Linked DNA regions of Homo sapiens. The protein of the gene in region 4 purifies or fractionates together with the protein of the main gene of each other region. This does not show direct contact. Each region holds a gene or a part of one and is shown on either strand. Other genes may lie near its edges.

The links.
Region 1: the proteins of TFDP3 (region 4) and ITPRID2 purify together in Homo sapiens (affinity purification with mass spectrometry; 3 studies listed by BioGRID and IntAct, with this or other methods). This does not show direct contact.
Region 2: the proteins of TFDP3 (region 4) and KIF11 purify together in Homo sapiens (affinity purification with mass spectrometry; 3 studies listed by BioGRID and IntAct, with this or other methods). This does not show direct contact.
Region 3: the proteins of TFDP3 (region 4) and DNAJB5 purify together in Homo sapiens (affinity purification with mass spectrometry; 3 studies listed by BioGRID and IntAct, with this or other methods). This does not show direct contact.

What each region holds. Positions count from the first base shown.
Region 1 is NC_000002.12:181,915,709-181,922,736, reverse strand, and holds part of ITPRID2 (protein ITPRID2), read right to left. Parts: coding exon 6,310-7,028; exon of another isoform or gene 6,138-6,309; coding exon of another isoform or gene 6,051-6,137; exon of another isoform or gene 5,900-6,050; coding exon of another isoform or gene 5,840-5,899; exon of another isoform or gene 5,732-5,839; intron 4,415-5,731; exon of another isoform or gene 4,267-4,414; intron 4,140-4,266; coding exon 4,062-4,139; intron 3,983-4,061; coding exon 3,855-3,982; intron 3,442-3,854; coding exon 3,291-3,441; intron 2,141-3,290; coding exon 2,075-2,140; intron 790-2,074; coding exon 325-789; intron 1-324.
Region 2 is NC_000010.11:92,596,107-92,603,134, reverse strand, and holds part of KIF11 (kinesin-like protein KIF11), read right to left. Parts: intron 6,277-7,028; exon of another isoform or gene 5,846-6,276; intron 1-5,845. UniProt on the Homo sapiens protein: Motor protein required for establishing a bipolar spindle and thus contributing to chromosome congression during mitosis. Required in non-mitotic cells for transport of secretory proteins from the Golgi complex to the cell surface.
Region 3 is NC_000009.12:34,985,757-34,992,770, reverse strand, and holds the start of DNAJB5 (dnaJ homolog subfamily B member 5), read right to left. Parts: upstream 3,027-7,014; 5' UTR 2,940-3,026; intron 2,482-2,939; exon of another isoform or gene 2,273-2,481; 5' UTR 2,141-2,272; coding exon 1,959-2,140; intron 1-1,958.
Region 4 is NC_000023.11:133,216,162-133,222,766, forward strand, and holds TFDP3 (transcription factor Dp family member 3), read right to left. Parts: upstream 2,194-6,605; 5' UTR 2,099-2,193; coding exon 881-2,098; 3' UTR 501-880; downstream 1-500.

The DNA.
Region 1 (7,028 bases), on a different chromosome or scaffold from region 4:
GTAAATCCTCATTTTGTAGATGTGGAAACAAGAGGTCCAAAGAGTACGTCATGTTTATTTTGAGTCCTTCACATATCTTTTTCACCATACTGAACACAGAGAATTGTAATTATTTCACATTAGAGTATGAAATTTGCAGAAATGCCATTACAAATATATCTTAATTGACACAAACTTGATCAACAGGAAAGCTAATTTAAAAGCTCTGTGAAAATTATTGAATACAGTGAATCAAAAGAACATTCTGTAAATAATTAATATTCAGACAAAATCTCCTCTAACATATACCTCCAAATAAATGAATGAAACACAGATTTTACCCACCTCCCGTATGACTTGCTGCAACTCATCTTGCTCCACATTTTTATGCATTTCCTCAGCAGCTGGCATTGATGGGAGTTTTCCATGCCCTTCTTCCACTTCAGATTTAGGTCCTACAACTTCTGGGGCTCCTTCAGCTGCATCAACTTCCTCAGAACTTTCCAAATCTGGAGGTGTCTGCACAGAGCCTGTTCTAGAAGGAGCTGTTGGCGTTAGAGCCACCGATGCTCGGAACACTTTCTTCCTTGCCACTAATGGGGTTTTGGATTTGCCCACTGAGGCAGTAGAAGGTACTCCAGTTCTTCTGTTAGCATGAGAGGGACCAGAACATACAGAAGATGATTCTGATGTTGCTTGGGAAAAAACAGATTCTGAGCTTTCTCCAGGAGGAATTTCAAATCCCATTTCTCCAAGTCCCAGGCCCAATTCAGACTTCAGGTATGACTGCTCCTGCATCAGTTCAGTGACCTGGAGATCATAAAAAAATGTTATTCTTCTCTCTTGGAATTAAGATTGGTAGCTAAAAAGGTTAAAGTCCTGGTTGTCATTATTGCCTAAAATCATGTAATTTGTAAAGACATAAATCTATTCCATTAATTTAATAACTACTCAATTTTATTTGCAAAAATGGTAAGTAAAATTTAAATTCCTATTGAGATGAAGCAACAAAACAGGTAAACAGAATACATAGTAGGATGAAATTTTACTTGTTACCACCAAAGTGTCCAAATCACTTGTAAGGAAGAGTAACTAGTGAAAAATAGTTACTCATAGTGCTTTTGCCCCCAAATGAACCAATCTGTCTAACACAATAAAGACAGATTTCTGTTAAAAACGTGGTCATGTTACAGCTCTAACTACCTAAAGAACCAGGATCAAACTGTGAAAGCACATGTCTCCTGAAATGTAAATTAAAAATCAATTTTCTTTTTTTTTTTGAGATGGAGTCTCACTCTGTCACCCAGGCTGGAGTGCAATGGCTTGATCTCGGCTCACTGCAACCTCCGCCTCCCGGGTTCAAGCAAGTCTCCTGCCTCAGCCTCCCAAGTAGCTGGGATTACAGATGCCTGCCACCATGCCCAGCTAATTTTTGTATTTTTAGTAGAGATGCGGTTTCACCATGTTGGTCAGGCTGGTCTTCAACTCCTGACCTCAGGTGATCCACTTGCCTCAGCCTCCCAAAATGCTGGGATTACAGGCATGAGCCACCACACCTGGCTTATTATTTTTTAAAGACAGGGTCTTGCTCTGTCACCCAGGCTGGAGTGCAGTGGCACAATCATAGCTCACTGTAGCCTTGAGCTCCTGGCCTCAAGCAATCCTCCCGCCTCAGCCTCCTGAGTAACTGGGACTACAGGCACATATCACCATGCCTGGCTGATTTTTAAATTTTCTGTAGAGAAAGGGTCTCATTTTGTTGACTAGGCTGGTCTCAAACTCCTGGCTTGAAGCAATCCTTCCACCTCAACCATTTAAATAAAGTGCTGGGATTACAGGCATGAGCCACTGTACATGTTTTTATGGTGCATTACCTCCTTTAGTCAGAAAGATAAATCACTATTGCAATTCAGGTGGCTTTCTAGTGGCTTCAGACAGCAATGGACTTTCAAAGGTGAAAGTCACTTCCAATCAACAATAATTTATCAAATTATGTATTTAAAATAAACATATATTTCATCTAAACTAGGGAAACTATGTGTCTGAAATGTTGTATCATTCCCTTCCCCAGTGATTTAAGAGGAAAGAAGCTTACTGGTTCCATTACATTCAATGGAGAAGGGCATGACAAGTTATCAGCGCTTCTACTGCCACACATTCCCTGAAAAGGTAAGAACAATATATATATGTATATGTGTGTGTATATATACATACATGCATATATAATTATAATGTACATATATATTTTTTCAAATCACAAGACTTTTATAATAAAATTAATTGGCTAATTAGTGCCTGGAAGCATCCCTTTATGTCACAAAGGTTACTCTCAAGTGTCACAGATCCCATAAAATGCATTATTGTGAGTTAAAACTGATACAATATGCAAAAAGGATGTTCTAGTTCTCCCGTCACCAACATACACTTCTCAGAATGATAAATCAAAACCATGTTGAAAAGTACATTCATTAGCAATACAGAACATCCTTAGTCTATGCTATACATATATGTGTTTATACACCATTGTTTATTCTACTTCATTTATAGTATATACACACATAATTGTATGTGTGTATATTCATCCATTTCTTTTTAACAAAATCAAATACATTGTTAAGGTAACAAAGAATAATTCACTATTTCAGCATTTCAAAGCAACATATTCTACAACTTCAAAGATATTTGCAAAAATAATACAACTGTTGAAGTTCAAATGTTATGGAAAGAAACATTAGAAGTATGAAAAGTGGTACAAAAACATGTTTCTTTTTATTCTCTTGGATATATATCTATATATTTAGGAAAATACATATATGTATGTGTATGTATATATATGTATGAAAATATACAGGTATCATTTGATTCCTTTAAAAACAAATGGAAAAGAATCCAAAATAAAGAAAAAGTTTAAAAGGAACACTTTTTTATTTAAAGGCATGAAAGAAAAAAAAACAGCAAAATATGCATCTGTGTTCTCTGCAGTTACATGCAACAATTAAAATTTACATTAGTCATATGTTAATTCACTAGCATTTTTCCTTTAAAAACCCTCAACTTTCGTATAAGCCCTTATTCTTTCCTGTTATTAAAATTTATCATTAAAAATTTTCAACATATTTCTAAATATACTATTTATGACAATTATTACAAATTGTACATTCAACTGATTTGTGGGAAAGCTCCTTAAACAGTATGCATGCTTTTAATACCATTAAAATAAATGACTTGAAATGAAGGCACACGTCCTAAATTATTGGAACATTATAAATAAACCTTTGGTGAAAACTCCGACCACCCTCCAGGTAGCGTACCATGAGTGCGGAGGAGCGGAAGGGTGAAGGCATGCGCACAGCACGAAGCTGCTCCTCCAGGCCCAGCAGGCGCTCCTCCAGCTGCAGTTCCAGGTCCTGAAGTTCCATTCGGACTGAATTTCTCAAACCCTGGAGCTGATCAACTTCAAACCTATTGGTATGGTGAAGGGCACAAAATTGGAAAAATGCAGTTTGGAGATTCCTAATCACAAATCTTTCAACAACTACTATATGCTAACAGAAGGCATGGAAATCTCAGGTTCTAGAAATTAGTACAATATCAACTACAATAGGTGTATCCACAAGGACATTAGTCTTTCTTCCCCTATCCTCTCACAAATATCTCAAACACGGGAAAGCAGGTTACCACTACCCTTAGGATATTGAAGGCATACAAGTTTACTTAGTAAAACACTATCTATGACTAATCTTATCTACACTGGTTCACAAAACAGATACAAGGTACACAGCAGTAGAATCAAAACCTAATTTTAAAAAATATAAGTTGAGAAGACTTTGAATGAAAAGCTTTTTGAGGTGTGCTAAGACAAAATGAACTTTTACCTCTCCTCCTCAGTCATATGATGATAAACCATGGTTTGCTGACGCAGCATTGCCAATTCTAAATCCATCATTTGTGTTCTAAACAAATTCAGGCTCCGCCTCATTACCTGGAGCTCCTGAAAAGTATTCTAGAATGCAATATAACAAAATTACACTTCTAAATTCTACAAATTATTTTGGAACACAAAGATGTAAGAAAGAACTTACTTCATAAAGAGGTAGAACAGATGATTTCTGAGTACTATATGGAGCAGCAGCAGGATCAGGTCCTCTCATCATAGGGTACTTCAAAAAAGTAAAAGTAGGATTAAAACCAATGTTAAAGTGAATACTTCCAAATCACTTAAGGGGTTAAAAGGCAGAATTTGGGGCCTATATATTTTTCTCTTTAAGACAAAAGGATCCAAAAAACCTTCATATTGTAAGCAGGAAAAAAGAAATCAGTTCCCAATGACACCTAGTACTGCTAGCTGTTCCAGGTATAAGTCAATCTACGTGGGAGGAGGAGGCGAAGGAACATAGTTCACATCTATTTCTTTCAGGACTTCCCTCTTGCGAAACTAAAAAAAAACAAAATCAAAACGCAAAAATGTAGAAGCCATTGCAAATATCATCATGAGATTATAGTGATTATTAACTTTGCTGGAGAGCAAGCAATCATTGTCGTCTTTCTCAGACATCTTAGCATTTCCTATATGCCACTATTTTAGGCAGTGAGATAAAAACATAAAAGGTATTCCCAGCCTTCAGGTGTTCTCACAGTGTAAAGAAAAATAAAGGAAATTTTAAAAAAATTCTAATACTGTGGAAGGAGTGCTATGATGAACACAGAAAAATTCAGATTACGTGAACTTTCCCAAAAGTGGTAACACTACTTGAACTGAGCCTTAACAGTAAATAGGGCTTGATTATGCAAAGAAAGGCAAAGACTGGGTGATCTCGGTTAAAAAAAAGTGGCTTATAGTCCCAGTACTTTGGGAGGCCAAGGCAGGAGGATCACTTGAGCCCAGGAGTTCAAGACTGCAGGGAGCCATGATTACACCACTGTCTCCAGCACTCCACGTGGGCGAGAAACAGAAACTTCATCTTTTTATTTTAAAAAAACAAAACACAAAATCAGCCATGTGCAGATACCTAAGAACACACAACTGTTTAGAGACCTGTGCACAATCCTACAGCTAAGGAATGAGGCTGGAGAGATAGTCAGAGACCACATCATAGAAAGCACCTGTCCACTAGTGTAGGGTGGGGTAGGCATGGGGAGATGTATTAGCTGAGTTATTGCTGGGATATCCAGGAGAAAGAGACCACAGCTGGAGCAGAAGAACTAGGTGGCCTAGAAAGATGCACCACGGTACTGGTGGACAGGGTCCTGGAAATCCCCAGCTTGACATAATCACAGCTGCAAGTTCCATCACAGACAGAACTATATTTTGTAAGGAGGAATAAGAAACACCCACATTCTGTTTAAACAGAAAACTGTTAGGGGACAATTGTCATGAGGATAAAACTTACAGTTAAGAGGAGGTATATCTTATTATAACTTGAGAAGTTACACCTTTGATTTTTACTTTCCAAGTGGCTCCCTGTCTACTATGTCATGATAAGAGGTCTATTACATTCATTCTAGGCCTCCTGACTCTTTGTTGAATGCTCTCATGACTATATTACATTGTCATTTTCTTCAATCCCTCAATTGTCTAAACATGATTCATTCAGAGAGAATGTTCAAGAAAATGTAAAAGGCAAAACTGAAGACAACGTACTTATTTTCAAAATTTTTTTGGGAAAATTATTTCCAGTCTACTAACAAATCTGAGAATGACTTTAAAAGTGACAAGACATACAGAGCATTTTAAATCAAATTCACACTTTACCTGATTTGTTATTTTCTGGTCTGGAGTAGTTCCAGTCTTTGAGTCCAGTGGAAGTAGACTAACTCTGTGCACAGCATCGAGGGTCAGTAGGTGAAGGGGAAAGCTTAGTCAGAGAGCTACGAGCAGAACCAGGAGAACGTGGTGCCACAGAAGCCAACAGGGAGAAAACTTGGAAAAGGAAAAGGTAGTCAACATGTTCAAATAGCAGAGAGAAAGAGAGAAAGAACTTTAAGAGGGAAGATTTTTTAATAATAGAAATGACAAAAGATTCTAGACTAAAACAAAGACAGTGGATGATAGACTAAAAATGGGAGGATACTTAACGAGAAAAATCTCTCCTCTTGGAAAGGAGACAGACTTGTGAGCAGAGAAATCGACTTTGATCAGGGTTAGTTACAGCTTCTCCCTTGAAACAGGAGGGAAGATAGAAAACGAAGGCAGATGCAGATTAAGTTTAGACATGTCAGAAAATAAAGCTGAGGTAGTTCATACTTGATGTGCCTTAGCTTCTCTGTGAATTAAAAAGTGCTCAGAGCAGTAAAAGAAAAAAGCTAATGATAACATACTTTTTCTCATACCTGTGAAAGATTCTGCAGTGAGTTTCTAATATCATGTAATACTCTTCGCAACTGCATTTCTATGGCTGAAGGAGGATTCACAGAGCACACTCGGTAAGGGTAGGTGGCATGTCTATGTGAGTAAGGACACCCGAAAGGGGAAGCGAAGGCACTACAAGTAGCCCCTGATATGTTGGGAACACTGTGAGTGCTCAGAGTTCTTGTGTGCTCACACAGGGGCCTTTCTTGCCACTCAGAGTGGATGGAATGAAGGGAACAGGTAGACTGAGACATTGGTGGTGGAGCAAGCCGTGAACAGGTAGGAGTCCTTCCATGATGGCATTCCTCCACCCGCGGCGCCTCACTCTGGGGGGCTTCTTCTTTCTTCACAGATGATGGAGAGATGAAAATGGTCGATTTAACTAAAGACTGACCATCATGTTCCATCACCCGCTTTTCCAATTCCTGCTCCTCTTCAGGTGTGTACTTATAGGTGAAGGAAGGTGGGCTGCATCTGGTCTCTTTTCCTGGAGATAATCGAACATTGACAGAGGACACAACCCTTACTGGGCTCAATAAGGTGGTTGGTAAAGACTGAGACCTTCTTAGAGGATAGCCAGCTTTTGCAAATAAGTACCTTTGTTTTAACAAATCTTTTGATTTTAGCAGGCTACGCCCCATCCTTTGATTAGACAGACTGCAAACCTTCATTTGAGCTCTTTGCAAAGCTGTATTAACTC
Region 2 (7,028 bases), on a different chromosome or scaffold from region 4:
AGCCAGGCCCTGTAGATATTTTGGTGGAAAAAATTTTCAGGCAGAGAGAACAGAAATTGCAAAGATTCTGAAGTAAAAGCAGGTAGATGTATTTTTTAAATGTGTGTGTGAAATTAGCCAGGCGTGGTGGCAGGCGCCTGTAATCCCAGCTACTCTGGAGGCTGAGACAGGAGAATCGCTTGAACCGGGAGGCAGAGGTTGCAGTGAGCCGAGATCGCGCCATTGCACCCCAGCCTGGGCAACAAGAGCGAAACTCAGTCTCAAAACAAACAAAAAACCACACACACACACACACACACACACACACACGTGTGTGTGTGTGTGTGTTTAAGTAACCAGGGTTCAAAGACATCACAAGGAAAATTAGAAAATTTTAGAGATTAATGAAAATGAAAATACAACATACCAAAACTTACGGGACACAGCAAAAGCAGTGCTAAGGGGGAAATTTATAGCTATGAATGCTTACATTAAAAAGCAAGAAAGATCTCATATCAACACCCTAACTTTACAACTTAAGGAACTGGAAACAAAAGAACTAGTTATTTGTGTCTTCTCTCTTATTGTTGAAAGAGTATTTTCAACAATTGTATGCCAACAAATCGGATAACCCAGCTGAACAAATTCCTAGAAACACAATACTTACAAAGACTAAATCACAAAGAAATGGAAATTCTGAATGGAGCTATAACCAGTAAAGAGATGGACTCACTAACCAAAAATCTCCTGACAAAGAAAAGCCCTAGATCTGATAGTTTCATAGGTGAATTCTATAAAACATTTCAAGAAGATCTAATACCAGTTCTTCTCAATCTTTTCCCAGAAAAAATCTGGCAAAGGAGAGAACACTTCCCAACTCATTTTGTGAGGCAAGCATTACCCTGATACCAAAGCCAGACAAAGGCAACTACAAGAAAACTACAGATCACTATCCCTTATGAACACTGATAAAAAAAAATCCTCAACAAAATACCAACACATTGAACTGAGCAGCACAAGGATTATACACCATGACCAAGTGGGATTTATTCCTGGAATACAGGGATGGTCCAACATGTAAAAATTGATCAATGTAATATACCACATTAACAGAATGAAGGAAACCACAGAATCATGTCAATCGATGCAGGAAAAGCATGTGACAAAATTCAAAACCCATTAGTCATAAAAATGCTCAACAAACTAGGAATAGAGTGAAACTACCTCAACAAAATAAAAGCAACATATGAAAAACCCACAGCAAACATAATTGATGGTCAAAGACTGAAGAATGTTCCTCTAAAAACAAGAACAGGGCCAGCACAGTGGTTCATGCCTGTAATCACAGCACTATGGGAGGGTAAGAGTAGAGGATCACCCGAAGCCAGGAGTTCAGGATCAGCATGGGAAACATAGCGAGACCCCATCTCTAAAAAAAAAAAAAAAATTATTTTTTTAATTAGCTGGGTGTAGTAGTGTGTCTATAGTCCCAGCTACTCAGGAAACTGAGGCAGGAGGATCTCAAACAAACTAACAAATAAAAGAACAGGAGCAAGACAAGGATGCCCAATGCCCACTTTTGCCACTTCCATTCGACATAATACTGTAAGTTCTAGCTAGAGTAATTAGGCAAGAAAGAAAAACAAGGGCCGGGCATGGTGGCTCACGCCTGTAATCCCAGCACTTTGGAAGGCTGAGGCAGGCGGATCGCGAGGTCAGGAGATCGAGACCAGCCTGGCTAAAACGGCGAAACCCCGTCTCTACTAAAAATACGAGAAAAAAAAAAAATTAGCTGTTTATGGTGGCACATGCCTGTAGTACAAGCTACTCGGAAGGCTGAGGCAGGAGAATCGTTTGAACCCAGGAGGCGTAGGTTGCAGTGAGCAGAGATTGCACCACTGCATTCCAGCCTGGGCAACAGAGCGAGACTCCATCTCAAAAAAAAAAGGAAGAAAAATAAAAATAAAAGGCATCCAAATTGAAAAGGAAAAGGTTGAGGGCCAAGAGCGGTGGCTCATGCCTGTAATCCCAGCACTTTGGGAGGCCAAGGCGGATGGATCACGAGGTCAGGAGTTCAAGACCAGCCTAGCCAAGATGATGAACTCCCATCTCTACTAAAAATACAAAAATTAGCTGGGCGTGGTGGCATGTGCATGTAATCCCAGCTACTTGGGAGGCTGAGGCAGAGAACTGCTTGAACCCAGGAGGCAGAGGTAACAGTAAGCAGAGATGGCGCCACCGCGCTCCAGCCTGGGCGACAGAGCGAGACTCCATCTCAAAAAAAGAAAAAAAGAAAGAAAAGGAAAAAGTAAAATTATCTGTCTGCAGATTATATGATCTTTTATATAGAAAATCTGGCCGGGCGTGGTGGCTCACACCTATAATCCCAGTACTTCAGGAACCCCAAGGGGACTTGAGGTCAGGAGTTTGAGACCAGCCTTGCCAACATAGTGAAACCCTGTCTCTACTAAAACTACAAAAACTTAGCTAGGCATGGGCGCATGCCTGTAGTCCCAGCTACTCGGGAGGCTGAGGCAGGAGAATCGCTTGAACCCAGGAGGCAGAGGTTGCAATGAGCCAAGATTGTGCCACTGCACTCCAGCCTGGTGACAGAGCGAGAGTCTGTCTCAAAAGAAAAAAAAATAGAAAAGAAAGAAAACCCTAAAATTCAGTGGGGCAAAAGGAGCTAGAGCATCAAGAAGAATAGCTAGTGGATGCTGGGCTTAATAGCTAGGTGATGGGTTGATCTGTGCAGCAAACTGTGATGGCACAGGTTTACCTATGTGATAAACCTGCACATCATGCACATGTACCCCAGAACTTAAAAGTTGATGAAAAAAATAATAAAAATAAGGCCAAGTGCAGTGGCTCACGCCTGTAATCCCAACACTTTGGGAGGCCGAAGCGGGCGGATCACGAGGTCAGGAGTTCAAGACCAGCCTGACCAACATGATGAAACCCTATCTCTACTAAAAATACAAAAATTGGCCGGGCATGGTGGCGAGCGCCTATAATCCCAGCTACTCCGGAGGCTGAGGCACAGAATTGCTTGAACCCGGGAGGCGGAGGTTGCAGTGAGCCGAGATCACACCACTGCACTCCCGCCTGGGCAACAGACCGAGATTTCATCTCAAAAAATAATAAATAAATAAATAATAATAATAATAATAAACAGAAGTTCAATAGTTAATTAAAAAAAAAAAAAAGCCAGGCACAGTGGCTCACGGCTGTAATCCCAGAACTTTGGGAGGCTGAGGCAGGTGGATCACGAGGTCAAGAGATCGAGACCATCCTGGCCAACATGGTGAAACCCCGTCTCTACTAAAAATACAAAAATTAGCTGGGCGTCGTAGCGTGTGCCTGTAGTCCCAGCTACTCGGGAGGCTGAGGCAGGAGAATTGCTTGAACCTGGGAGGTAGAGGTTGCAGTGAGCCGAGATCGCGCCACTGCACTCCAGCCTGGCAACAAAGCGAGACTCCATCTCAAAAAAAAAAAAAGAAAAGAAAACTCTAAAATTACACACACACAAAAAAAAACTGTTAGAACTAATAAGTGAATTCAGCAAAGTAGCTGGATAGAAAGTCAACAAGCAAAATCCAGCGACGTTTCTTTTTTCTTTTTTTTTTTTTTTGAGACAGAGTCTCACTCTGTTGCCCAGGCTGGAGTACAGTGGCACGATCTTGGCTCACCACAACCTCCACCTTCCAGGTTCAAGCGATTCTCCTGCCTCAGCCTCCTAAGTAGCTGGGACTACAGGCACGCGCCACGATGCATGGCTAATTTTTGTATTTTTAGTAGAGACAGGGTTTCACTATGTTGGCCAGGCTGGCCTTGAACTCCTGATCTCGTGATCAGGAGTTGGGAGGCCCACCTTGCCTCCCAAAGTGCTGGGATAACAGGTGAGAGCCACTGCGTCCAGCCTCCAGTTACATTTTTATACACTAAGAATGAACAATCTAAAAAGGAAATTACAAAAACAACTCAATTTAAAATAGCACCAAAAAGAATAAAATATTAGTAATTAATTTAACCAAGGAGGTGAAAGACTTATAAAATGAAAACTATAAAACACTGCTGAGGCCAGGCGCAGTGGCTCACGCCTATAATCCCAGCACTTTGGGAGGCCAAGGTGGGTGGATCACCTGAGGTCAAGAGTTCGTGACCAGCCTGACCAACATGGTGAAACTTTGTCTCTAGTAAAAATACAAAAATTAGCTGGTCGTGGTGCCACATACCTGTAATCCCAGCTACTCAGGAGGCTGAGGCAGGAGAATCACTTGAACTCGGGAGGTGGAGGTTGCAATGAGCTAAGATTGTGCCACTGCACTCCAGCCTGGACAACAAGAGCGAAACTCCATCTCAAAACAAAAACAAACAAAAAAAAACTGCTGGCAGAAATTAAGGGGCATAAATAAATGGAAACACATCCCTTGTTCATGAACTGAAAGACTTAATATTGTTAAGATGCCAATACTACCCAAAGTGATCTATAGATTCAATGTAATCCCTATTAAAATCCCAATGACGTGTTTTACAAAAATAGAAAAATTCATCCTCAAATTCATATGGAATCCCAAGGGAGTCCAGATAGCCAAAACAATCTTGAAAAAGAACAAAGCTGGAGGACTCACACTTCCTGATTTCAAAACTTACTACAAAGCTGCAATAATCAAAACCATGTGGTACTGACATAAAGACAGACTTATAGACCAATGGAACATAACAGCACTTAGAAATAAGCCCTCTTACATATGAGCAAATGATTTTTAATAAGGTTGCCAAGACCATTCAATCAGAAAAAGACAAGCTTTTCACCAAATGGTGCTGGGAAACTAAATATCCATATGCAAAAGAATGAGGTTGGACCCTTATCTAACACAATATACAAATATTAACTCAAAATGGATCAAAAATGTATGTAAGACCTAAAGCTATAAAACTCTTAGAAGAAAACATAAGGCAAAAGCTTCACAACAATGGATTTGGCAATGATTTCTTGGATATAACACCAAAGATACAGGGAACAAAAACAAAAAGACAAACTGGACTTCATAAAAATTTAAAATGTTTGTGTATCAAAAGACAGCATCCCTGTGATCCCAGCTACCTGGAAGGCTGAGGTAGGAGGACTATTTGAGTCCAGGAGTTCACAACAAGTCTGGGCAATAAAGCAAGATACTATATTTAAAGGGGAGAAAAAAAAAATAGCCCAGGCACGGGCTCACGCCTGTAATCCCAGTACTTTGGGAGGCCAGGGTGGACGGATCACCTGAGATCAGGAGATCAAGACCAGCCTGACCAACATGGTGAAACCCCATCTCTACTAAAAATACAAAATTAGCCAGGCGTGGTGGCGCATGCCTGTAATCCCAGCTACTCTAGAGGCTGAGGCAGGAAAATGGCTTGAACCCAGGAGGCGGAGGTTGCAGTAAGCCAAGATCGTACCAATGCACTCCAGCCTAGGCAACGAGAGCAAAATTCCGTCTCAAAAAACAAACAAACAAACAAACAAACAAACCCAAGGGAAAAAAAAAGACTTTATCTTCCTTTTCTCCATCATAGTGCAAGATCAAGGTAAAAAAAAGAGAACTCTGGCCAGATGAGGGCTCACACTCATAATCCCAGCACTTTGGGAGGCCAAAATGGGTGGATCACTTGAGGCCAGTAGTTCAAGACCAGCCTGGCCAACAAGGCGAAACCCCATCTCTACTAAAAATACAAAAAATTAGCCAGGCATGGTGGTGCACACCTGTAATCCCAGATACTTGGGAGGCTGAAGCATAAGAATTGCTTGAACCTGACAGGCAGAGGTTACAGTGAGCCGAGACTGTGCCACTGCACTCCAGCCTGGGTGACAGAACGATTTTCTGTCTCAACATCTGTATGGAGGAGACTGGAGATGACTGACCCCAGCAGCCAAGGTGTTGGAGCAGCTCATAGGCCAGACCCCTGTGTTCTCCAAAGTCAAATACATTGTCAGATCCTTTGGCATCAGGAGAAGTGAAGATTGCCACCCACTGCACAAAGGGCCAAAGCAGAAGAAACCCTGAAGAAAGGTCTAAAGATGCAGGAGTGTGAATCAAGAAAGAACAACTTCTCAGATACTGGAAACTTTGGTTTGGAGATCCAGGAACACACAGATTTGGGTATCAAATGTGACCCATGCATTGGTATCTACAGCCTGGACTTCTGTATGGTGCTGGGTAGGCCTGGTTTCAGCACTGCAGACACATAGCACAGAACAGGCTGCACTGGGGCCAAACACAGAATCAACAAAGAGGCCATGCACTGGTTCCAAAAAGAAAAAGAAAGGAAAAGACCACACGGTATCAATGAGTAAAAAGGCAAACCACAGTAATGGGGAAAAAATTTTTGCCGTTTATGTATCTGAAAATATCCAAAATATATAGAAAATTCCTAAAACTCAACAACAAAAAAGCAAACCAATTTAAAAATGGGCAAAGGACTTAAACAGACATTTCTCCAAAGATACACAAAATGGCCAGTAAACACATGAAAAGATGCTCAACATCATTAATCATTAGGGAAATACAAATCAAAACTACAATGAGATAGCACCTCACACCCAATGGATGGCTACTTGAAAAAAAAAAAAGAAACAGAAAATAAACGTTGGTGAGGATGTGGAGAAATTGGAACCCTTATGCACTGTTGGTAGGAATGTAAAATGGTCCAGCCACTGTGGAAAATAGTTTGTCGGTTCCTCAAAAACTTTAAAATAGAATTATCATATGATCCAGCAATTACAATTCTGGGTAAATACCCAAAAGAATTGAAAACCCATATTCATAGCAACATTATTCATAATAGCTAAAAGTAAGAAGTAACTCAAGGCCGGGCTCCGTAGCTCACGCCTGTAATCCCGGCTCTTAGGGAGGCCAAGGCGGGCAGATCACAAGGTCAGGAGATGGAGACCATCCTGGCTAATATGGTGAAACCCCGTCTCTACTAAAAATACAAAAAATTAGCCGGGAGAGATGGCAGGCGCCTGTAGTCCCAGCTCCTTGGGAGGCTGAGGCAGGAGAATG
Region 3 (7,014 bases), on a different chromosome or scaffold from region 4:
GGTGCCCAGGCTGAGGGCAGCTGGGGCAGTGGCCCAGGACCGGGAACAGGCCTGGGTCTTCCGCCAGCTGTCCTGGCCAGCCAGACTGAGTCAGGGAATGGGTGTCTGGAGTCCTGTCTGCCATCGGAGACCCCAGGCCTCCCCGCCCCCACCCCTCTGACGATGCTAAGCCTCACGTGTGACTCAGATCACAGGGTGACTCACAGCCTTTGGAAACTGCTGTTTCCAACTCCCTCATTAGCAGGGGGGGCGACACTATCCTTCCCCCAACCAGGGCAACAGTTCCCTTTACTCATTTGCCAGCGTCTACACACAAAACTGTGAGGGCTGTGCCGCCTAAGCACCAGTGTGAGTGAACAAAAGCATCCTGGGGACAGGACTTTTTCAACCCCAGCTGTTAGGAGACAATTGGGCACTAACCAACCACCATTTCCTTAATACCTCTCCTAGCCTCACCCTACGCCCCCAGTCCACCCTGTGGTTTAGGATCCGGCCCATCATCAGACCCATATTCCTCTGAGTCCCTTTTAAGGTGGGTGCAGGAGCATTTGTTATAAGAGAAACGTACAACCCGAATTCTTCCATTCCAGTCTCCCTCTATCGGTGTGTCTGTGGTGGATATCAGGGGAAGGGGGACTTTCCTGTAGCTAGAGCTCTCTGGGGGATGGCCAGAAGCCATTCTCAGCCCTTCTGAGACTTGGCCAACCCCTGCCAAAGCCAGGAGAACCAGAGTCTTTCTAGCAATGTCCTAGGCTGGCAGCCACAGCTGAGACCTGCCTTTCTGCCTCTGACTGCTTCACAGCAGGGAGGTGTACAGGGTGTCCTTCCAGGAGTGAGGCCTGTAACCGGGTAAGGGGGAGGCGCCCAAGGCCCTAGGTGGGCAGGGACAATGGCCCTCACTGCTGCCCCCACAGGCCCTGCTGCAGGTGGCTGGGTTGACTCATGGTTCTGGGAGTCACCTTTCTCTGACGAAGAAAAGGCTCCACAAAGGCGGGTACTCCCCCATTGCCCCCCACCAGCATGTCACGTCTGTGGGGGAGATGGGGTGGGGGGTGGGGTTGGGAGAGGCAGAGAAGAAAGAGCACCTCGTTGGGGGGGGGGGCAACCGTTTTCGGAAATGGCAGCAAAAGCCGTCTGAGAGGGAGCGGGGGGGGGTGGTCTGCCATTTCTGCCTCAACCCACACCTTCTTTCCCCTGGGACTGGGAAAGAACCCTAGCACACCAAGAGGGTGCCCCTAGAGAACGAGAGCAGCTTCCAGGCAGAGGGCCAGTGGAACGGCTCACCAACCACCCACCTCCTTTTGGTGTCCCTGCATTACCTCCACACCCGGCCAGCTTCCTCCCTGGTACCCACCTGCTAGCTGCTCTAGGCCCATACATCTCTTGCCTCCGCAGACACAGGGCAAGCTCTTTCAGGATCTGCCTCCTTTTTCTCTTTCTGCTTTCCTCCCTCCTTCCCTTCCCCCCTACCCACAGGCCACGTGTTGGAATGACAAAGGAGCCCCATGGCATGGCACTGCCTTTGATGGAGAAGAATGAGGAGGATGTTAAGGTAGAGGCAGGAAGGAAAAATGGGGAGAAAATGGCGAGGGGGACTGTTGAGGTACAGGGAGGGGAGATGGCTGATACAGAAAATGAGGTACTGATGGAGGGGGATGAGTGACAGATGGAAATGGCTGAGGTGGAAAATGGGTTAATGATGGGTTGAAAGGGAGGAATGTGGAGAGTTGAAATAATGGAGGAAATGTCTGTGGAAAATGGATACCTGAAGGGTTTGAGAAAAGGAATGATAAGGGGTGCAATTCATTCAAATATGTGGGTGAGGCCGGAGGGGGGTTCCTGTATGTCACAGAGGGGATGAGGATGAGTTGGAGGAAGCAGGAAGGCAATGGAGGGGATGGCCGCGTGGAGGGTTTGACTGGGTATGGGTGTGAGTGCCCTTCTCCGGAGGGACTTACCGAAACTTTACAAACCCATTCAGCGTCCACGCTCGAAGTTTTAAGGGCTCCAGCTGAATTTTAAACATCAAGCTGGCTAAGAAGTCTTCTCCCCAGGAGTGTGGGAAGCTCCGGAAAGCTCCTCGGGCCTGCAGTGGGGGTGCTGCTGGGGGTGGGCAGGAGAGCACTGTGCGCTTAAACATGCCCAGCCAAGCCCCTCACCTCTGATCGCTCCACCGGAGCCGGCCTGAAGTGCTGCAGCTCTGGAAGCCACCTCCTTGGACTCTCAGAGGCGCGTGCCCAGCAAGGCCTGTCTGGCGCAGCAGGTGCCGGACCTGATCCCCAAATGTGGAGAGTGAAGGGAGAAGACCCGCGGCCACCTGCTCTCAGGTGCAGCAGTGTCTGGCTGGCTGTGAGCGGCTGTATGGCAGCGTGTCAGTGAGGCTGGGAGTGCAAGCGTGTGTTTGTGAGTGGCAGCGTGTATACCTGTGACAGGTGTGATTGTGAGGGCCCGAGAGGCAGTGAGCTCCTGTCGCCTCTCACTGGGGAGGACCCGACCCCAATCCCCAAGAACCTACTCAATGAAGTCACTGACGGGAGTCTCCTCCCTCGCAGATGGGCGGGGCAGAGCGGAGCTCGGCCGGGACAAAAGGCGCGGCGAGGAGAGGAGGGGAGGGGGCTCGGGCGGGGGAGGGTGGTCGGTGATGTCACCCGCGCTGGCTGGCTGGTCTGCTCACAGATGCCTCCGCCCCACAGAACCCAATCTGGTCCGGTCCGACTCGACCCTCCCCTCCCCTCCCCTCCCCGACTCAGACGCTGGCTGCCCCCTGTGACAGCCAAGCCCTGGTCTAGGACTCCGAGCACCCTGCAGACCCCGGGGCCCCGCATCCCCAAGGCAGCAGAGCCTACGGGCCCTCAGTGTCCCAACCCCCCAACACCAGGAGCCCTGGCTTCACGACGCCCCGCTCCCGGGACCCCCGAGTCCTGGCTTGGCGCCCTCACCGGTGAGGAGCTGCGGGCGCCGCCGTGGTCCGTGAGACAGCCGCTGCCCCCTCCCCCGGCTCCGGCTCCGCCGCCTCCACCCGGGACAGGAGTCGCCTGCCCGCCGGCCGCCGATAGCGGGACCGGGAGCCCGCCCCCACGGCTCCGCCTCCGCGCCGCCCATTGAACCGTCTTCCTGTCACTCAGCTCAGCCTCCACTGTGATTGGGCAGTTTTCAACAAGCGGCTTGGTGATAGCCGCCCATCCTCCGCCCCTGTCACCCGGCCACACGCGCACACATTCCAGGCAGTGATTGGTGTGGATCTGATTGGCGCCCTCTGGGATCACTCAACCACGCCTCTTTGCCATCTTGTCGTGCCATTGGTGAAAAAGACAGAGGGCGGCAACCTCGCTCGCCCTTTGATTTTATTGGTTCGTGCCTGAGACTCAGACCCGAGCCCGGGGGCAAACTATATTAGTCCAATCTCCGGGTTGAGAAGGTGGGACGTACTGGCCACTGCTCGAATCCCAGGAGAACCTTCTGGAACCCTTGCGACGTCAAAGGCAGCCTTAAAGGAAAACTGTACCCACCAGTTGGCCGTGCGGCCGTGCATTCTTTCCTTTCTTCATTGGGGGGCAAGAGGGAGAGAACAGTGCACTCTGGGAGGTGTAGTCCCTGGACCGGGGCCAAAAGGTCAGCACTTCTTACTCGCCTTTCAGCCAACGGTGTAACCACCTCAAGCTGACCTCATTTAGCTTTACCTTATCCTGACCCCGCGGTGGCCTGATGTGACCTAACGGAATCTCTAACAGACCCCACGGATGCCGGGTTTCAGAGCCCCCCGGACCTCTCCCCCGAGGGAAACGGATGGCTCTGCCCAGGCCGGTGCCTCCAGGAATCTCCCCCGCCCACCCTCTGTACAGCCCCTCATCCTCGCGCCCCTCTTCAGCGACCCCGCGGTCTCCATTTCAGTCCCTCTTCTAATCAGTCTCTCATCCTGCTTCCCCCTGGAGTGCCTGTGTTTTAGCCCTTTCCTTCTTGGCCCTAGATGATCTCCTGTCTTCCTTCCCGCAGTGATCCCTTTTGTCTTATTCTTGGTTCTTTCTTTACACCCCGATCTCCTATCCTAGCTCTCCCCTTTCATCTTTCATCTCACTCCCCAAGATCCCCTTCCTTAACACCCTCAGAATCTCTAGTCTCCCCCACCCCCCATTAAGTCATTAGATCTCAGCCCCAGTGTCCCCGATGCAGGGAGCAGGCGGGGCTGCGGAGGCGGTCGCCAGCGGAAGCCGCCACTCCAGCAGACACGGTGCCTGGCGCCCACGTCACTGTCTCCCAGGCCCATCTGTGCTCGAGGGAGCGGGGGTGGGGAGGGAGTAATTTGGGGGTGAAGTGGGGGAGGGGAGTGCTGGGGGGTTGATGATGATAGAAGGGTCAGGCCGGAAGCTCCCCTTTACTTCTTTCTTTCCTATTTTCCAGAGACAGAGTTTGGACACCCATGAGGTCTTGCTAGAAACTGCAGCTTGAGTACCTGGGCCAAGAGCAGAGCAAGGCGGGGGGGGGGTGCCAGGGTCCTGGAGTCATGTCTGTAGATTCTTCACTACCTACCTTCATGCCAGGAGTCACTATGGGGCTCCCAAGGGTAAAGGGGCATGAGGTGTGAAGGAAGAAAGAGACTTGGGGTGAAAGGAGGATGGAAAGGAAGTGGGGTTGGGGGCCAGGAGGGGAGCAGAGATGGGTGATGAATGTGGGGAAATGAGCATGAGGAATTTGAGGAAATGGGGTTGAGGGGGGGAGGTAGGGAGAGGGGGTGGTGAGAGGATGGTGAGATGGGGTGAGGGGGATGAGGAGGGGAGGGGCATGGGGCAGATGAGCCATAGGGTGGGAGTAAGGAGGGCAGAGGAAAGGAGGGCTGGGGAGGGGAGGGAAGGCAGGGTGGGGGATAAGGAAAGAAGGGCTGGGGAGGGGCAGGAAGGCAGGGTGAGGGATGAGGAAAGAAGGGGTGAGTAATGAAAGGATGAGGCACAGAGATGGGGTGAGGAGGAGTGAGGAAGGGGGAGGGGAGGGAGGAGGGATGGACATCTCTGTGTGACACAGAGATGGGTAAGGTGGGGTGAGGGGCCCTGCACCGCTGCTGGCTCCTCAGATCTGGGGGCTCTCACTCTTCCACCTCCACACCTGTGGGGCCCAGGCTGTGGGTGGCTCTACTTCTTCCTATTCCAGTTCTGTCTCTTTTGCCTCCCCCAGCCTTGCCTGTGCCAACACGGAGGCAGAGAGTTTAGTCACCAGCCTTTACCTGGCCCCTGCTAATGCTAAAGTGTAGGCTCGGACCTTTGAGGGTGCAGAACTGTGCCTTCAGGTGTTGGTGGCACAGACTCCACTGTTTGCCTAGTCCTCGGTTCCCGCCCTCAGTCCCATTGTCCTGGGTGTCACGTGTGTGTAGTGCTCAGTGTGGCATGGACTGTGACAGTGTGGTCTGGAGTCTATGCACCTTGTGAGCTTACACGCCACACTCATGCCTCATCTCCTTTGTAAATGGGGATTGGTGCCTCAGGGGGTTGTTGAGAGGGTTAATTAAGGTAACACAGGTAGTGCACTTAGTTCTGAGCTGGGCATGTAGTTTATACCCAACCAATGGTTAACTTGGTTAACTCAACCAAGTTAACCATTACTCTACATGTTCACAGATGCTGGGAGTGCGAGTGCATCTATAAATCTGTGAGTCTGGGAGTTATTTGTAGTGTGGTACTGGTAATGTGATTTGTGAGTGGATCTGTGCAGTTATTTTTGTGTGGTGGTGTGCCTGATTCTGTTATATGTTGTAGGTATATGATTTTGGGTCAGTGTACATGTGTGAGTAAATGACTGTGCGGGCATGTGTCTACATGACAAAGAGTGGATAAGGTATATAGGCACTGACACATTGACACCATGTCTGCCAGCGTATGCACGCATCTGCGATCATGCCAGTCCCAAACGCCCCCACTCACCCTCCCTCCCCTTGGAGACGTCATAACCCTAGGTGTCCCTCATTTCCTCACCCTGAGGGAACCGGAACCCGTGGGCAGGGGTGGGGGTGGGTGCCAGTGAGGAGGTGTTTTAGACAGAGGCACATGTTCCCTCCCAGACTGTATAGGGAAGGGAGCCCCTATCCTGCTCACATCCCGAAGGCTGCAGAGGAAGTGCCCCCAGCCTGTTTTCAGTTCCCTGTCTTGTCACCATGGTAATGGTTGCCAGGGGTTCCCATGGTTGCTAAGATCTGGGTGTGGGAGGCTGCCAGGCCCTGTTGCCAGTAGAAACAGAGAATCCTGGGGGGAAGGAAGACTACCCTCACAGCTGCCACCTCCCTGCAGTGACAGAACTGGCCCTTGGGCCACTTCTCTCCCCCAGTTGTACCTATGAGTTGTATGTGGTAGTACTAGTGTGTGTGTGGGAGCAGGAGCGGGGGCTTTAACAGGAAACCAGAACTAGAATACTGGGATACTAGAATACTGAGGAACAGGGGGCTACTTGGCCTACCCATCACCATCCTTAAAGTTGGGAGGGCCTTACGAATTAGTGACTACCTGCCATCTCTACTAAAATACAAAAAAAATTAGCCAGGTGTTGTGGCACATGCCTGTAATCTCAGCTACTCAGGAGGCTGAGGCAAAAGAATCGCTTGAACCCAGAAGGCAGAGGTTGCAGTGAGCCGAGATCGCGCCACTGCACTCCAGCCTGGGTGACAGAGTGAGACGAGACTCCCTGTCAAAAAAAAAAAAAAAAGAAAAGAAAAGAAAAGAAAAAAAAGAAATGAGTGACTATCTCCTGCTGTCCCCTGTCCCTCATATCTCTCCCCTGGGCAGTCTCCATGTTTGTTCTTGAGTTCTCCAGTGCCTGGGTACTCATTACCTGATGCTTTCTCCTGGGTGTAGGAATGCCACGTTGACCCATCACCTTGGCTGCAGATGGCCTCCCTCCTGTGATCAGACTCTGAGCATCTCACCTGATACATGCTTCATGCTGACACTCAGGCCCAGACTTTGGTCCCACACTGAGTCCCAACTTTGACCTCAGCCTGAGACACAACCTGGTTATTGTCCTGGTAGAGACAGT
Region 4 (6,605 bases):
TGCATTGATTGCCGGCTAGGAGCCTTCAGCCATCCTGTCTTAGTTCGTTTTCTGCTCCTATAACAGACTGGGTAATTTATAAAGAAAAATAGATTTATTTGGCTTATGGTTCTGGAGCCTGAGAAGTCCAAAGCCATGGTGCCAGCATATGCTTGGCACCTAGTGAAGACCTTCCTGCTGTGTCCTAACATGGCAGAATGGCAAGCAAGCATTCAAGACAGAGGAACAGGGTTGAAATTATCCTTCTATCAAGAGTCTATTCCTATTATAACAGCATTAATCCATTGATGAGGGCACAGCCCTTATGGCCTAATCACCTCTTAAAGGCCCTACCTCTTTTTTTTTAAGATTGATGGTGTTTATTGTTCTGAAAATAGAATTCTGCCGTTTGCTTGGGGCTCTGGACACTGCAAAACTGAACAAATGGAAAACTCAAGAGTCTTGCTATGCATCAGTGGGGGTGCCATCCAAATCCAAGGCAAATAAACGGCATTCGGTACTCACTGTGCACAAAAGGAGAGCATTTTATTTTCATGGATGTGGATGAAGTACAATTTCTTCAGTAAACTCAGGAAAAACTGTTAAGGGGCAACAATGAACTCTGCATTTAAAGAAAAATAGAAAATGAAAACACAAAATCCTAAAAAGTAAATAAAGATTCTGTGTCAGCACACTGGTATCAAAACACACATCAACAGCACGTCTTAATCATACGGGAAACAATCCTTGCTTATCAGAGGTGCATATCTAAATTCTATAGCTTACCAATATCTTCTTGGGAGTAGGCAAAAAAGAAACAGAAAACCTCACATTAAAAAAAAAAAAAAAGTTTCTTTTCCCTAAATGTTTTCCTGAAGCTGAATCTTAAGGCGAGAGGACGTCAGTCATCCTCGTCATTCTCACTGAGGTCGTCATCGTTGTTGTCCTCCTCCTCTTCCTCCTCGACTGCTGGGGTCTCCACCCTGGAGCCACTGTACTGAGATCCACCGGAGCTTGTGGCCAGCATCCCAATCGCAATGTTGGTCAGGTCACTGGCAGAAAGCCACGTGCCATTAGACCTGGAACCTGCCGTCGTGAACACACCTCCAAAAGTTCCCTGAGCCATTTCTGTCACGTACGGCTCCAGAGCCTTTGGGACCAAATTTCTGGCCATTTTAAGGTCTTCGGCAGAGCAGCTCCCGGACTCTAGCCCAAAAGTCATGCCCATCCACATCAGCACTTCTGTGTCATCGTGGATTTCAAAGGAGCTGTTAAACTTAAACAGATATTCTGATTTGTCGTCGGAGATGCTGCAGTTGATGACGGTCTTCTTGCTACTGCTGATGATGATGAAGGGCACGTGGATGACTGAGTTGGGCAGCGGCCGCTGGCTGACCTGCTCCTCCACATACTGGTTTCTCAGCACCAGGTTCTTGAAAGCAATTTGCTGTAGAATAAGTTGTTGAAGTTCAGACTGTTTCTGCTTTATTCTTTCAAGTCTCTTCTGTCTTTCCACCCGTAAGTTCTGACAGTTCTGAGCCGAGTTGGTGGTCAGACCAATCCACTTGATCTTCTTTTTCTCCCTGGAGATGATATTCATGGCCATCAGCACGTTTAAGGCATCGTAGGTGCGCCGTTTTATGTTTTTCACGTCATAAGCTGACTCGTTTGGTGAGGCGTGGTTGCTGGCAGCTCTGAACTTGGCGACCAGCTCGCCCACCACTTCCTGGCAGGAAGTGGTCCCTTTCCTCTGCACCGTCTCCCAGACCTTCATGGAAAGACGGCACAGGCCCATGCCATTCTTCTCTCCTTTCCTGTTGTGCTGCCCGGCCCAAGGAGGTGAGGAGTAGGAATGCTGGTTCTGAGAGGCAAAGTGAGTGCTGGGTGGGTTTGGGCTTCCTACCACAGGGATGTTTGATGCTGCTGGTCTCTGAGGCATACCAATTACCACTTGCTGGTCAATGTTGACACTGGACTGTCCAAAGGTTTTCGGCAAGAGCTGCTTCCCGAGCGGGTTCACGGTGGAGGTGTGAACGGCCACGGGGCGGCTGGTCTGGTTCTCGTCCATTAAGACCTTGAGTTCTTCGTTAGCTTCAGTGAGACTGACATATTTTGCCATGTTAACAGATTTGGGAAATAAATGCTATAAATGTTCACCTTTCCAGAGAAGAAAAACAATTCTTCCAGGCCGAGTGTAGGGCTGCCGTGAGGTGCGTGGCGTAACGTGCGTGGCGTAACGTGCGTGGCGTAACGTGCGTGGCGTAACGTGCGTGGCGTAACGTGCGTGGCGTAACGTGCGTGGCGTAACGTGCGTGGCATAATGTGTGTGGCGTGTGGTACGTGGTGTGTGGTACGTGGCGTGTGGTACGTGGTGTGCAGTACGTGGCGTGTGGTACCTGGCGTAACATGCGCCACGTGAGGTGCGCAGCAGCAGGGGGGCGGTCCGTGCAGTGCGCCTGCGTGCCTTTTCACGCCTTCAGCCTTTCCTCCTCTGGCCCTACCTCTTAATACTGTTACAATGGTAATTAAGTTTCCAACACATGAACTTTTGGAGGACACATTTAAACCATAGCACATCCTAAAGGGACTGATGAAAATCAGACGTGTAGGCCTCTGCAGGCCCGTCTATCATTTCTTCTCAGCCATTGTCTCACAAGAAGCTGGATCTGGGCTCTTGCAAGGATTATTTCTTCACCTGCTGGTCAAGAAGCTTATTGTGGAAGAATCCAGTTTTTGTCTCTCTACCCAAACAGCTACACTAAGCCTTCCTGAGTAGATAGAGATGGGAAAAAGGAGTTAACAATATACAGTATCATTTATTTGTTGGGCTGTGGTACAATCAATAGACTAAGTCCACAGCCTACACCTCACTTTGGAAGCTACACACATTGCCAATGAGAAAGAAATCTAAAGAGAGAACAAGACAAAGCCCAGCAGAAGCAGAGGCCTGTGGCAGTCTCTTTCTCCCACCGTTGGTCTCAACTCTGCCTTACTCACCAAAAGTCCTAATAACCATGCCACACAGGCTCTGTGTCTTCAGGCCTGCTTCTCTAGTCCACACCAACTTCCTCTAGCACCTCGACTCTGGAAATAATGCATGTGATTGCACACAAGCATACACCTCAGCCTCAGATACACAGAGGTGCTGTCTCACTCACCTCGGGCTGCCGTAACAAAACACCATAGACTGGGTGGCTGAAACAATAGACATTTATTTTCTCACAGTTCTGGAGGCTAGAAGTCCAAGATCAAGTTTCCAGCAGGGTTGGTTTCTGGTGAGGGCTCACTTCCTGGCTTTCAGATGTCTGCCTTCTCACTGTGTCCTCACATGGCAGCAGGGCTTGGAGAGATCTCTTTTGACAAGGACACATCCTATCCTATTTGGGACCCACCCTTATGACCTCATTTAACCTTAATTACCTCCTAAAGACCCTATCTCCAGATACAGTCAAATTGGGGGTTAGGGCATCAACATATGAGTTTTAGTGGGTAGGGGGACAAAATTCAGTCTATAGCATTTGCTAAACAGAACCAGAGCTGGACAGTAGTGAAAGAGTAGTGAAATTGGGGGTTAGGAGTTCAACATATGAATTTTATTGGGTAGGGGGACAAAATTCAGTCTATAGCATTTGCCTAACAGAACCAGAGCTGGACAGTAATAAAAGAGGTAAAACAGATATTATTCAGGAACTATGGCAATGGGGCAAAAAGACCTCAGGATAGAACTGGGCTCAATTCTTTTTTAAGGCAGAGTCTCACTCTGTCACCCAGGTTAGAGTGCAGTGGCACGATCTAGGCTCACTGCAACCTCCGCAATCTCCGCCTCCTGGGTTCAAGTGATTCTCCTGCCTCAGCCTCCTGAATAGCTGGGATTACAGGCTCCCGCCACCACGCCCGGCTGTGAGCCACTGCACCTGGTCTGGGCTCAATTCTAAATGCAGTAAATGCAAGAGGATTTATAGCCAAGGAGCAGAGCAAAGTGGTCAGTGGATGAAAAATTACTAAGAAGATACATCAAGGGTAGATGAATTCTTGTTAAACCAACTTAACAAGATTCTTGCTAAAGGTAGGCTGGGGTGATCAGATATCAAGGGTGGGGAAGAAGAGTGTGATCAGATATTGAAGGTGATTGGATATCAAGAGCAGGGGATTCTCACTAAAGTGACTTAAGCTAAACTCCTGCTAAAACTAGACTTAGCAAGGATGAGGTCAAAAAGAGGGCTTAGAAGAGCCTGTCTAAAGTTTAATTAAGGAGAGAGTTTTAACCCCTCTGGTTCGCCCCAAATTTATGTTTTCTCACATGCAAAATGCATTCATTCCATTCCAACAGTCCCCAAAGTCGTCACTCTTTCCAGCATCAACTCTTAAAGTCTGAAGTCCAAAGTCTCATCTAAATATCATGTAAATTATATATTGGTGAGACTAAGGTAAGATTCATCCAGAGACAAAATTCCTCTCTAGCTGTGAACCTATGAAACCAGACTAGTTATGTGCTTCTAAAATACAATGGTGCCAGAGGCATAGGATAGACATTCCCATTCCAAAAGAAAGAAATCAGAAGGAAGAAAGGGTAGTGAGTCCCAAGCAAGTCCAAAACCTAGCAAGGCGAATTCCATGAGATCTTAAGGCTCAATAATAATCCTCTTTGGTTAAACACTCTACCCACCACTTGGGTGGCAGTGTCACTTTCATGGCTCTGCTAGGGCCCTGCCCCTTCAGTTATCAGAGAGGGTCCAGCCCAAAGGATTGTCTATAAAGGCTGCCTTGCCCCTGAGGCACAGGGCGGGGTCACCCTGGCCCACTGAAACTGGAGAGGTGGTATCACCCTTTGAAACTGAGGTAGAAACAGCCTTGCCCCCTGGGCCTGTGGTAGAAGTGTCAGCCCTGATTATCTATAAATGCCTTCATGGTTATTCTTATTTTTCCTTGAATAACAGTGCAATTAGCAGCCAAATAGGTAAATGGTCTGCTCCTGAGAATCCAAGAACTTCAAAAGTCTTCCTTCATTCTGTGTAGCTTTCTCTGTCTCCTTTAGTTCAAACTAGTGTTTTTGCTCATATAATCCCACTTCTATTCCTGGCTTCCGCTGAGATGGCTGATTATACTCATGAGTCCCACCCACAATCTCTTCATCAAATGGTTGTCCAGCTGTAGGGTTAGTGTTCTCTTCAGGACAAGTTTCATTTTTTGCAATATGGATAGGCTGAGAATATTCCAAGTTGTTAAGTTCTGGTTCCTTTTTGCTTAACAATTCCTTCTTTAATTCATCTCTCTCTTCTTGCATTTTACTATAATTAGTCAGGAGAAACCAAGCCAATCCCTCAACACTTTGCTTAGAAATCTCCTTAGTTAAATATCCAATTTCTTCACTTTCATGTTCTAACTTCTGCAAAACACTAGGACACAGTTCAGCCAAGTTCTTTGCCACCATATAACAGAAATCACCTTTCCTCCAGTTTTCAGTATCTTGTTCTTTATTTCTCTGTGAGACCTTACCAAGATTGCCCTAAATGTCCATATTTCTAGGATGTGCTGCAAGACTCTAGCCTTTACTCATTACCCAGTTCTAAAGCCACTTCCACATTTTTAGGTATTTTTTACAGCAGCACCCCACTTCTCAATACCAAAATCTGTCTTATTGTATTTAGATTACCATATCAAAATACTGTAGACTGGTGGCTTAAACAGCATACATTTATTTTCTCACAGTTCTGGAGGCAGGAAAGTCTAAGACCAAGGTTCTAGCAGGATTTGGTCTCTGGTGAGCACCCTCTTTCTATCTTGCAGATGGCTACCTTTTCACTGTGTTTCTCACATGAAAAAGCGAAAGGAGAGAGAGAGAGAGAAAGATTGATTTCACTTATTATAAACACATAGTCCTATAAGATTAAGATTCCACTCTTATGATTTCATTTAATTTTAATTACCTCCTAAAGACTCTATCTCCAAATATAGTCAAATTGGGTGTTTGGGTTTCAGCATAAGAATTTTCAGAGGATGCAATTTAGTTCATAGCAGGTGCTCTGCTGGTTTTTTTCTCACTGCCCTGTGGTAGCTGCAGACAGGTAGGCTTTGCTGAACTCATTAAGCATTGGTAGAACTTCTCAGAGGCTTTGCTCAGAACATAAGGCCCCAACAGAGCAAAAAATGGCTCCTGACATCTAAGTGTTGACATGCTTACCAGGCCTCATCCAGGCTTCCCACTCTAACATTTAAGAGGCCCAGAACAAGAATACAAACAGAGCATATGCCTGATAATTAAAAATTATAAGTCAAAGCAAAAAAAATTGTTAAATATGTTCTATCTTCTATTTTGACAACTATACCTTTATAAAAGCAAAATCGATATGTGTAAAGTGATGGTTTTAATATTATTGAAAGCAAAATATCAAAGATGACTGAGTTTAATTATGACTCTGCATGTCTGAGTGTTCTTATGGGCTAGCAATATATGGATGAGTAATAATGTAAAGACATACATATTTCAGGAATTATTTTGTATTCCACAAAATTAATTTTTGTCACCTTCAGCAAAAATCAGTTATTCATTGCTGTAATAGTAAATTTTCACATAATGTATAATTTTCAGTCATGATCCAAAGCAGAGGTCAGCAGACTTTTTCTGT